2 separate regions of the Homo sapiens genome follow, and region 2 is linked to region 1. Evidence: fine-mapped expression QTL. A gene starts in region 1. The other region holds a variant in brackets. All regions are shown on one strand. Distances are between the middles of the regions.

What was found. PIP is the estimated chance that this variant, and not a neighbour inherited with it, causes the effect. A credible set is the group of variants that fine-mapping cannot tell apart.
Region 2: its variant is the best candidate, but not a certain one, in a credible set for the expression of MRPS7 in memory regulatory T cells (Schmiedel 2018, PIP 0.74).

The regions. Positions count from the first base shown.
Region 1 is chr17:75,259,755-75,265,060 of GRCh38, reverse strand. It overlaps MRPS7 (mitochondrial ribosomal protein S7), which reads right to left and starts at 3,182. Exons shown (of 5, transcript NM_015971.4): 1 at 3,078-3,182; 2 at 2,373-2,564; 3 at 2,194-2,257; 4 at 1,554-1,721. The coding sequence starts at 3,160. It overlaps GGA3 (golgi associated, gamma adaptin ear containing, ARF binding protein 3), which reads left to right and starts at 3,455. Exons shown (of 17, transcript NM_138619.4): 1 at 3,455-3,513. The coding sequence starts at 3,474. RefSeq lists enhancers at 2,396-3,273, 3,070-3,479, 3,950-4,049.
Region 2 is chr17:75,225,309-75,230,674 of GRCh38, reverse strand. It overlaps NUP85 (nucleoporin 85), which reads right to left. Exons shown (of 19, transcript NM_024844.5): 9 at 5,211-5,333; 10 at 4,846-4,977; 11 at 4,518-4,624. Among named protein-coding and RNA genes, the nearest start is that of NUP85, 22 kb to the right of the region's middle. RefSeq lists an enhancer at 4,021-5,220. The variant A/C (reference allele first, on the strand shown) is at 3,340.

The DNA of each region.
Region 1 (5,306 bases):
CAAAAAAAAAGAAAAAGAAAAAGAAGAAAAGCACTGGCCATTTTCCCTCCTAAATGGTAGTCCTACCAAGTTGTTATAAGAACCAAATAGGAAAAGCCCCATTAGCTGGGGTGACTAATCCACCTCAGACCATAGGTACCTAAAAACAAGACCCCTTCAGTCTTCAGACACAGCAAAACCCTGTCTCTACTAAAAATACAAAAAAATTAGCTGGGCATGGTGGCGGCCACCTGTAATCCCAGCTACTTGGGGTGGGCAGGGACTGAGACAGGAGAATCTCTTGAACCCGGGAGGCGGAGGCTGCAGTGAGCCGAGAGCTGAGATTACAGCACTGCACTCCAGTCTGGGCAACAAAAGCGAAACTCCATCTCAAAAAAAAAAAAAAAAGTTAAAAACAAAAAGACCCTATACAAACAGTTAAAGAAAACCAAAAACAAGACCCCGTGTCCAAAAATCATTTGTCAGGCCCTCACTATGCGTCAGTACCATGCCAGACACGAGAGTGCAGACAATAATGAAGTCCCTACCCCATGGAGTTGATATTGAAAAAGGAGAACACAAGAAAACTCAGGACAATAAAATATAATTAAATGCTATGAAAGAGATACCTAGTACTGTTCAGCAAACACTGATGAAGCATCAGTTATCGGTCAAGCACTATGCCAAACACTGGCATACAAAGACAGGATATGAATAGTCCCTCGCCATGAGAATTTTACAGGTTAGGACACACAGGATGCTTGACAGAAGAAGGCGAAGGGAGGTGGGCTCCCAGATGTCACTTAGATACTTCTTCACTCTCTTCCACCTTCTGCCTATAATTTTTACGCTACAGGACTCAGATGAGTGGACCGTAACAGTCTCAATTCTTTTTTTTTTTTTTTTTTTGAGATGGCGTCTTGCTCTGTTGCCAGGCTGGAGTGCGGTGGTGTGCTCTCGGCTCACTGCAACCTCTGCATCCTGGGTTCAAGCGATTCTCCTGCTTCAGCCTCCCAAGTAGCTGGGACTACTGGTATGTGCCACCACACCTGGCTAATTTTGTATTGTTAGTAGAAACAGGGTTTCTCCTTGTTGATCTCGAACTCCCCACCTCAGGTAATCCATCCACCTCGGCCTCCCAAAGTGCTGGGATTACAGGTGTGAGCCACCGTGCCCAGCCGTTTTTTTTTTTTTTTTTTCTGAGACAAGGTTTCTCTCTCTTGCCCAGGCTGGAATGCAGGGGCGTAATCATAACTCACTGCAGCCTTGACCTCCTGGACTCAAGTGATCCTCCTACCTCAGCCTCCTGAGTAGTTGGGAGCACAGATGCACACCACCACACCTGGCTAATTTTTTTGTTTTTTTTGTAGAGACGGGATCTCCCTATGTTGCCCTGCTGTCTCTTAACTCCTGAGCTCAAGCTATCCTGCATTAGGCTCCCAAAGTGCTGAGATTACAGGTGCAATCCCACTGCACCAGCTAGAAAGCTATCAATCTTGACCCAACTCCCAAGCACCACCTATCTTGTTTCACATGTGGAGGGCCCTGCTTTCTTGCCCTGGCCATTCATTCACCTGGTAGAAACGGCCTCCCTTGAGGATGGGTACCAGCCCAATCATAGGCTCACAGTTTTTCAGTGCTTGATGGAAGATGGTGTAGGGGTTGCGTTCGATGGTTGCCTGTTCCTCTGCAGAAGCGGCATGGTACTTCTCAAACTGCTTCCTTTTCACAGCTTCCAGAGTCTGCAAAAGAATATGGTGGAAGAGGCTGCCCCAGGCTCCCTAAAGGGTTTACCCAGCCAAGCTAGTACCTTGCCCTTTACTCCCATCCTCTGGTTCTGCGCTGGCAATGCAGCTCCTCTCACAGCACATCCAAAACAAAGTTTTTAAGTGCCTCCCCCTTTGCTAGACTAGGACAGAAAGAGTGGATTGAGATTTGTGGCATGGAGGGGGTGGGGGGTGAGGTGGGGAATGGCAGTTGTTTTATTTTTTATTTGTTCCTTTTTTTTTAATTGTGTGTTTACTTCCGAAACACCAAGGAATGGCAGTTGCTGACTCTTACAGGGCTTCATTAAAGCCCGTACACATGCAGGGAAGTTAATCTGAATAATAGATACATGAATCCATTTGCTCTTAAGCTACACTGAAAGTACCAAGTACAAGGCTACGGGGTAGGGGGGCAAGAAAGATGACTGAGGAGGGAAGTGCTGTTTACCTGAATCATGAGGGATCTGGCCAGTACTTTGTTTCCTCCTATCATCATCATGTTGGTGAATTTACTTCAAAGAGAAAAGCAACACGTTTAGCTCTCCAAGGCTGTATCACAGAATCCTCACCAGAAACCCTCCCTGGGATAGTCCCAGTCCATGTAACAAGTGTTTGTTTCCATCTAACCTGATGACTGGGTCTTCAAACACAGAACTTGTTTTCCCTGCTGGAGCAGCTTTGATGAGCTGAGTCTTCTTGAGCTCCCGAACATATTTCTCCTCCTCAGTTAGCTCCTCCACTGGCTTGCGATAATATTCCTTGTCAATCAAGGGATCCTTGAATTCAGGACTATAGCGGCTCCATCTCACCTGAGTTAGCCTGGGAGGGGGGGAAAGGAGGAGGCAGGCAAAAGCTGACTCCACAAGCGAGTAGGTTTGACTTAACAATAGGCATGACTGCCAACGCGCCGACGAGGGGGAGCGGCGCGGAGACCGCGAGCTAAACCTGAGCCACAACAATTCAGGCCCTTGTCCCAAGTAGGAGGACATTCCCCAAGCAGGCGGGTAAAGTCTCCTCCTGGTCAAGTGCTAACGGTAAGGATGGGCTTGGCGCCTACACACCCATCCCAATTCACAGGCGATCCCAGATCTGAGCTCTTTAGCTGAACCGCACTTTCAGCTCCGCGTTAGAACCCTAGATCAGCCAGACTCCTTAGGCGAGAGGTAGTCACTAAACCTTCGGATTGGCGCAGGGTCACGCAGCTAACTTAGAAGCTTGAATCCAGATACTCCGGCCCCCAGGGCAATGCTCTCTCTAGGGGCCCACGCGGCCTGCCTGTGGCCCCCTTCCTTCCTCGCAGCGCCCCCCCGCCGCTGCTCGCCACCCTCTCACCCTGGAAGCTGCAAGACAGCCCGCCGCACGCCCAACGCCAGGCCCGACCATCCTCGGGCAACCTTCACTGCGGGGGCAGCCATCTTGGCTGGCCACGAGGACCCCACAAGGACTGCCCTCGGCGCGCCTGAGCGAGTGACGGGAAACGGGTGAAAAAGACTCCTCAGGGTCCTAAATCTGCGTTTCTCTCCACTGATCTGGACGTTAGAGTTTTTCACTCCGGGGTCCAAAGGGGAGCGCCAAAAGGAAACCCTTGCCCTCCCTGTATCCGTCGCAGTCTGGCGCGGCCCTCGGTGACGGCACTCACTCCTCTCAGGACCCCATGCAGGCCCCGCCCCGTCTCAGCTCGTGCAGACTCTCGCGAGTTTTGAAGCCGCGGGGCCGGGCGGCTGCAATATGGCGGAGGCGGAAGGGGAAAGCCTGGAGTCCTGGCTCAGTGAGTAGCCGCGGCCGTTTCTGCCTGCCCTCGAGCCGCTGGGCTGCCCCTGTCTTCACCCCCACGTCCCCTCCCCGGGCTCCACGGCGTCGCCTCTTGGCAGCCCACGCCCGGTCTCGCCCTCGCCGCGAGCAGCCTGCGATCACGCCCCTTCCCTATCAGGGCGCCGGGCCCCAGTCCGGCCCCCGCTTCCCTCGCTGCGGCGCGTCCTCTTGCTCTGGCGCGCGGCGGCGTGAACTCGGGCTCCTGTCGGGCACCGCAGGCTCGGGGAAAGGCGACAGCCAAGATCTTCGGGCTGACATGCTTCGGCGCTTTGGGGAGATTGTGGTGGGGTCGCCGCCCGGCGGTGACACCAGGAACCCAGCGCCCCAATCCCTGACTAAGGGAGAAGCTTCGGATTGGGGCTGAGTCTCCGGTAGTGGTGGGTGCTGCCGACTGCGTTCAGTCGCCTGGCAGCTTCAGAATTGTGACCATGTGTTGGAGAAGTGACGGCTTCGCTCAGGCAGAATGCTTGAAGTGAGAATAATATTCCAAAGAGAGCGATGATAGAGAACAGAGAGCTCTACCTTTTTCCTGCAGTGACCACAGAAGCATGGTGAAATCGGTGTCGGGAATTCCCCCCCCACACACATACATATACCCCCTTGAATATCCTAACGAGTCAGTGTTGATAGCCTATTCTGAGTAAGGCTGAGGAGCACAGTCTGAAGCTGTAGTTATAGAAGCGTATTGCTGTCATTGCACTGTGAATTACAGTGCTACGAAGGAAATGTGTGTTAACCTGGTTAGCAGGTAGTACTCTGCCTGAGGGTTAATAAGTGAACTTTCCTGTAGGCTAGACCTGGAAGCCTCCTTTAAGTGGAGAGAGAAATTGGACTGGTAATGGGATAGGTGAGATACCTAGTATTGCCTTGTTCTGAGGTCTCTTATTTAGTACTGCTTCCGGGATCTTGGAGGTGATAGCTATTTCCTCAAATTGTCTGATTTTTCCTAGTAAGAAACCCCCTTCAGGAGGTTGAGCTTCAGTTTAAAGGGGAGCATATCCCAAAAGAGAGAAAAAGTAAGATCACGTTTGCAAAATCTGCAGTTGCAGGCAGGTCATAAGGCTTCTTTATATATGGAAGTGTTCTCCAAGGAGCTCAAAGTACTTTACAGATATTCATTAAATTAGTTTACCAAGTATTCTAGCAAAGCAGGCACTACTGCCATAATTTCACAAAAAGAGGACATCCTGACTCCAGTCAAACCACTTGCCCAGAAATGCCCAACTTGCTATAACCAGAGTGGAATTAGTTTGCTTTGAAGGTATTAATATGGGTATTGAATAATTTAAATGACCTAAGCTGAGTTTAATAGGCTACATTTAGAGTTACATTTTGTTTTTGTTACTTGTTTTTGAGACAGAGTCTCGCGCGCTGTTGTCTAGGCTGGAGTGCAGGGGTGCGATCATAGCTCACTGCAGCCTTGAACCCCTGTGCTCAAATAAGTCTTCTACCTCAGCCTCCTGAGTAGCTGGGACTATAGGCACACGCCACCATGCTTGGCTAATTCTTTTGATTTTTAGTAGAGATGAGGTCTTGCTGTGTTGCCCAGGATGGTCTCAAACTCGAGTTCAAGTGATCCTCCCACCTTTCCCTTACAAAGCGCTGGGATTACACACGTGAGCTACCGCACCCAGCCTAGAGTCACATTATGAAATGAGAGGGACACACTTGGTGGGGGGGAGTCACATGGTATCTGTAGAGACATAAGCTTCACAGTTGTTACGACTTAATGTGAACTGTACCAGTTGA
Region 2 (5,366 bases), 34 kb after region 1:
ATCAAAACATGTTGTTGGCCGGGCGCGGTAGCTCACACCTGTAATCCCAGCACTTTGGGAGGCCGAGGTGGGAGGATCATGAGGTCAGGAAATCAAGACCATCTTCGCTAACACGGTGAAACCCCATCTCTACAAAAAGTACAAAAAATTAGCCGGATGTTGTGGCGGACACCTGTAGTCCCAGCTACTCTGGAGGCTGAGGCAGGAGAATGGCGTGAACCTAGGAGGCGGGGCTTGCAGTGAGACGAGATCGCGCCATTGTACTCCGGCCTGGGCGACAAAGTGAGACTCCATCTCAAAAAAAAAAAAAAACAAAAAACATGTTGTACACCTTGGCCGGGTGCAGTGGCTCATTCCTGTAATCCCAACACTGAAAGGCCGAGGCGGGTGGATCACTTGAGCTCAGGAGTTCAAGACCAGCCTGGCCAAAATGGCAAAACCCCATCTCCACCAAAAATACAAAAGTTAGCTGGGCGTGGTGGCGTGTGCCTGTGGTCCCAGCTACTCGGAAGGCTGAGGCAGAAGATCGCTTGAGCCCAGGAGGCAGAGGCTGCAGTGAGCTGAGATCGTGCCACTGCACTCCAGCCTGAGTGACAGGGCAAGACTCTGTCTCCAAAAAAAAAAAAAAAATTTTGTACACCTTAAATACATACTACTTTGTTAATCACACCTCAATAAAGCTGGGGAAAAAAATGGGAGGGAGTGGGCTGGGCCAGGGGAAAGGACACCTCAGCTTCCCAAAACAGCTGTTGCTACCCAGATTTCTAGCTGATGGTTATGTCGAAACCATTGGAGAAGCCAGTGAAAAGGCTATAGGGGACCCAGGCTAAGGGAGCCAAAGCCTTAGCCTGCACGAAAGCCACCAACAACTGGAAGGAAGGGCTGAGACAGTGCCCGGTGTCTTCCCAAAGGATCCAGCAGCCTCCAAGGCTGGAAGGCAGCAAGCACTGAGAGCAGAGAACTAACAACACAACTCAAGTGACGGAGACCAGACATAGTGCTGCACAAAGCCACCACGGTCTCTCTACAGGGCCCAGCAGGCCTGAACCACACAGTTAGGTCTTAGATCACACACGCACACACTCCCACTCTCACTCTGTCTCTCTCTCACTCTGAAGGATTCTGAGTGAGCAGCCGAGACACAGAGCAGGTGGGCATCCTTAACATTCAAGGCAAGAAAGGCCTAATTATCAGCTCCAAAGTAGCCCTCTGCTGAAAACGAGAGAACGCTGCGGAGTTGGGAAGACCAGCTACGGTGAAGGTGACCCCTCTAAGCAACTGTAGCCCCAAATGAGCTGTTTGTCCTGTACTAAGGTCACTGTCAACTCCTTACCCAGGCCCCATCTTGCTTGTTGGGGGCTCTGGAGTAATCAAAGCTCCAGTGCCTCTACCTGCTATTCTGGAAATGGGGTGTGAGGTTTGTAAACACTGCTGCACCCTGCATCCAAGATTGTGGGCTGGGCCAAAATACAAGTCAGAAGATTCTAGATTCAGCAGACATTAAGCTGGAACTCTTCTTGGTTATTGAAGGAAGACTTGTCACCTTTTAGCTCGATACTTTTGGAGGACTTGAAGGGCACCAGGAAACTGCCGACATCTTGCCCAACTCCCAGTGAAGTGCACCCCAGCTGTTTCCTCTTGCCAGACAGCAAGGAACTGGCCCGTCTTCAGAGGAAGCTGTAAGCCAGGAGGGAAGAAGGGACCCTGTGGAGGACTCCTGCCATCTCCTTTCAGCTAAGGGGTTAGCAGTCAAGCATGCCCACCCAGGCACTGAGAGACAAACCCCTGGCCCTTTAGCAGGGCTGACGAACTACAGCCTCTGAGTCAGGATCCCCTGGCTGCCTTTTCTGCCCCTTAGGGTCTGGCACGATTATTGACATAGGAGTAAATCAGGGGCCCACTTAGAAACCTCCCTTCTCCATGTTCATATGAAGGTGGTGTGAACAGGAAAGGAAAAAAAAGAAAGAAACCTTTTTTCTAATGCCTTTAAAAAGGCATGCCAACAGCTCACTGGCTCAAGTCCAGAAAGAGACACACTTCCCTGCCGCCCAGAACTGTGCATGGGTCTGACTGATACATCCCATGAGAAAACAAGTGCCCACAAGACCCCAATTCAACCTTTCCCCAGAGCCAGGAGGGCACACTTCCTAAAACTGCTACTGCCTCTGAAGACATTGCAGCCCATTTCACAATTCCTGGGACAAGCTCTGCTTTTCTGTTCCTCTTTCAAAACAGGATAGGAGGTAGCCTCGTGATCAGAGAAATGCAAACTCCAAGATTTCCCACTAACAGAGCTCAGATCCCTTCCTGCTTGTGAGAGTGGAGAGAGGCTGAGACTGGGGGACTGCAAGCCTAATCATTCCTTGTCTGTGTCCGGCACGAGAGTGATGTTGTTCACCCCTCTTCATGGTACTTCTCTTTCTCTTCTGCCACTGGAAACAGCAGGATGCTTTCCCCTTTTATACTCCCTGCATCCAACAGACTTCTTCTGCTCAAATCTGTTTTATTCCTAAAAATCCAGATACAGGGCTTATAAATTAGGAAGCCCTGGTGAAACTCACTCACTGTTATAACACAGGAAATTTAGAATACTCAACTATGGGCAGAGACACCAACAAAGCCAAACGATGGTGTGTTTGTGTGTTTTTAAGTTATTCTCACTAATTCTTCCATGCAGGGACTTCTCACAATGTTTACAGGCCTGTGAAAATATTGACACAAAACTTGACTTTCAGGCCGGGCATGGTGGCTTACGCCTGTAATCCTAGCACTGTGGGAGGCCAAGACAGGCAGATCGCTTGAGCTCACAAGTTCAAGAACAGCTTGGGCAACATAGTGAAACCTCATCTCTCCAAAAAAAAAAATAATAATTAGCCAGGCATGGTGGCGCACACTTGTAGTCCTAGCTACCTGGAAGGCTGAGGCAAGAGGATCACTTGAACCCAGGAGGTCAAGGCTGCAGTGAGCTGAGATCACTCCACTGCACTCCAGCCCGGGTGACAAAGTGAGACCCTGTTTCAAAAAAAAAAAACTTGGCAGGGCGCGGTGGCTCACGCCTGTAATCCCAGCACTTTGGGAGGCCGAGATGGGCAGATGACCTGAGGTCAGGAGTTCCAGACCAGCCTGCCTAGGCAACATGGTGAAACCCTGTCTCTATTGAAAAACACAAAAATTTGCTGGGCGTGGTGACGGACACCTGTAATCCCAGCTACTTGGGAGACTGAGGCAGTAGAATTGCTGGAACCCAGTAGGTGGAGGTTGCAGTGAGCCAAGATCACGCCACTGCACTCCAGTCTGGGTGACAAGAGCAAAACTCTGTCTCAAAAAAAAAAAAAAAAA[A/C]AAAAAAAACCCAGAAACAAACACACAAAAAACTTGTTTTTCATTCCCCAAATCTAGTATCATTTTCTTGAAGCCCTGGCATTCTTTTGGCCAAAACAAGAAAAGCAGGTAGGGCGAAGGAAACTCTTCCCATGCCCAGATCTACAAACAGCCAGTTGAGGTCAGTGAATCTGACACCTGATCAAGGCCATCTTCTGCCATTACCCACTTCCTCCCTTCCCAGCACGTCTTCAGTGCAATGCCCACCATCCAGGGTGCACAACAAGGAAGGGGACCTTCTTTCTGACTTACCATATATGGAGAGTTCTGGAAAGGTTTACCTTTGATTGATTATGTTTGGCACTCCCTTTCCTGCCTTGCTAAAGATTCAGTGCAATCATAGAACACCCTCTTTTGGATAGAGGGCTGGAAATTCTGAATAATACCCAGCCTGAAGCCCAGTGGTTCGGTAGCTCACGTCACTGGAGTGAGACTCTTGGAACACGCCATCCCATAAGGTGTCCATTAGGTGCCAAGAAACAGGCTTGCTGGCTTTTTCTAGATTTTAAATGTCAAAGTAGTTTCCCGCGATGTTATTTTAAATGAACATCCCTGAAATGGAAACAGTTATGTATATGGTAGCCCTCAAGCCTCCAGGAAGTCCCTAAGCTCACCCAGAGAAAAGCCATTATCTACCTGTGGCAAGTCAAGCAGGGGAGCAGATGCTATGGTTTGAAGGGATCCCCTCTAAAACCCCAGTTTTGCCAATGTGATAGTATTAAGAGGTAGGGCCTCTAAGAGGTGATTAGGCCAGGAGGTGATTAGGCCACATCCTCCCTCATGAATGTGATTGGGTGCCCTTATAAAGCGACTTGATGAAGGGAGTTTGTCCTTCTTGCCCTTCCACCACATGAGAACACAGTGTTCAAGGTGCCATGTTGGAAGCAGAGAGCAGCCCTCACCAGCAACATTGCCAGTGCCCTGATCCTGGACTTCCTAGCCTCCAGAACGGTGAGAAAATAATCTTTTTCTTTATAAATTATCTGGTCTCAGGTATTCTGTAATATCAGCGTGAGATGGACTAAGATAGCAGGTCTGAGGGAAGAAGGGTAAGGAAGGAACAGGCCACTCTAGAAACGCAAGGTGGTGATATTTGTACACCTAAAAATGGTTACAGTGGGGGGTGGGAGAGATCCTACCTGCACTCTTTGATTACTTGATGGATGTCAAACTCAAAGGCTGCCAACAAGATGTTGTCCAGGGGTTCTGGGCTGCTCTCACCTCCCAGAAACAGGTCCAGGCTGGACTGTGGAAAGGTGATGAGACACTCAATCCTGAGGACGGAAGCAGAGACTCGGGGCAGGCAGGGCTGCTGTATAACGAACCCCAGAGAAGGTGCCTTGTTCTTTCACTAAGGGCCAAAGGAAAGGGTCTTCCTGTTCCTCAGGGAGGAATTCAAAGAGAATGACCCATCAGGGCGCCCCCAGGACTCCTACCCCCACCCTTGCCCACCCCGAGCTCACTCACCTGGGCATAGTAGTGCAGATCAATGGGTTTTACTGTGGGATTGGAGTACAAGAGCCGAGTCACTAGGAAATGATACCAATTACTCAGAAGTTCCTTCTGCTCTAACAAGGCAGCTTCGTCTCCCAGCATAATCTGAGGAGAGACATTTGTGCTGAACTCTGTCCTCCTCTCAGGGGTACCTTCTCCATAATGCTCCTGCTCTCAGCTAAGGGCACCGGATTTCAACTAGTCTGAAAGCTCTCGCCATCACGGCAGAGCGACAGACAGCCCTATCCAAGGAGGACCAAGCTCCTGCCACTGCTGCACTGGATGCCACAGCCCCCATAGGAAGCCAACATGGATGCAATCTGAACTGCTTCCCAGACCTTCAAGAGAGACTCCAGGTGAGGGCTGGTGGCGAATGTGCTGTCCTGGAGGTACCGCTCACATTCCTCGTGCCAGTGCTGCCACTTCAGCTCCAGCTCTGTCAGTGTCTGGGTGTTCCCGGGCTAAGGGAGAGACCAGCCATGAGACGTCATCCC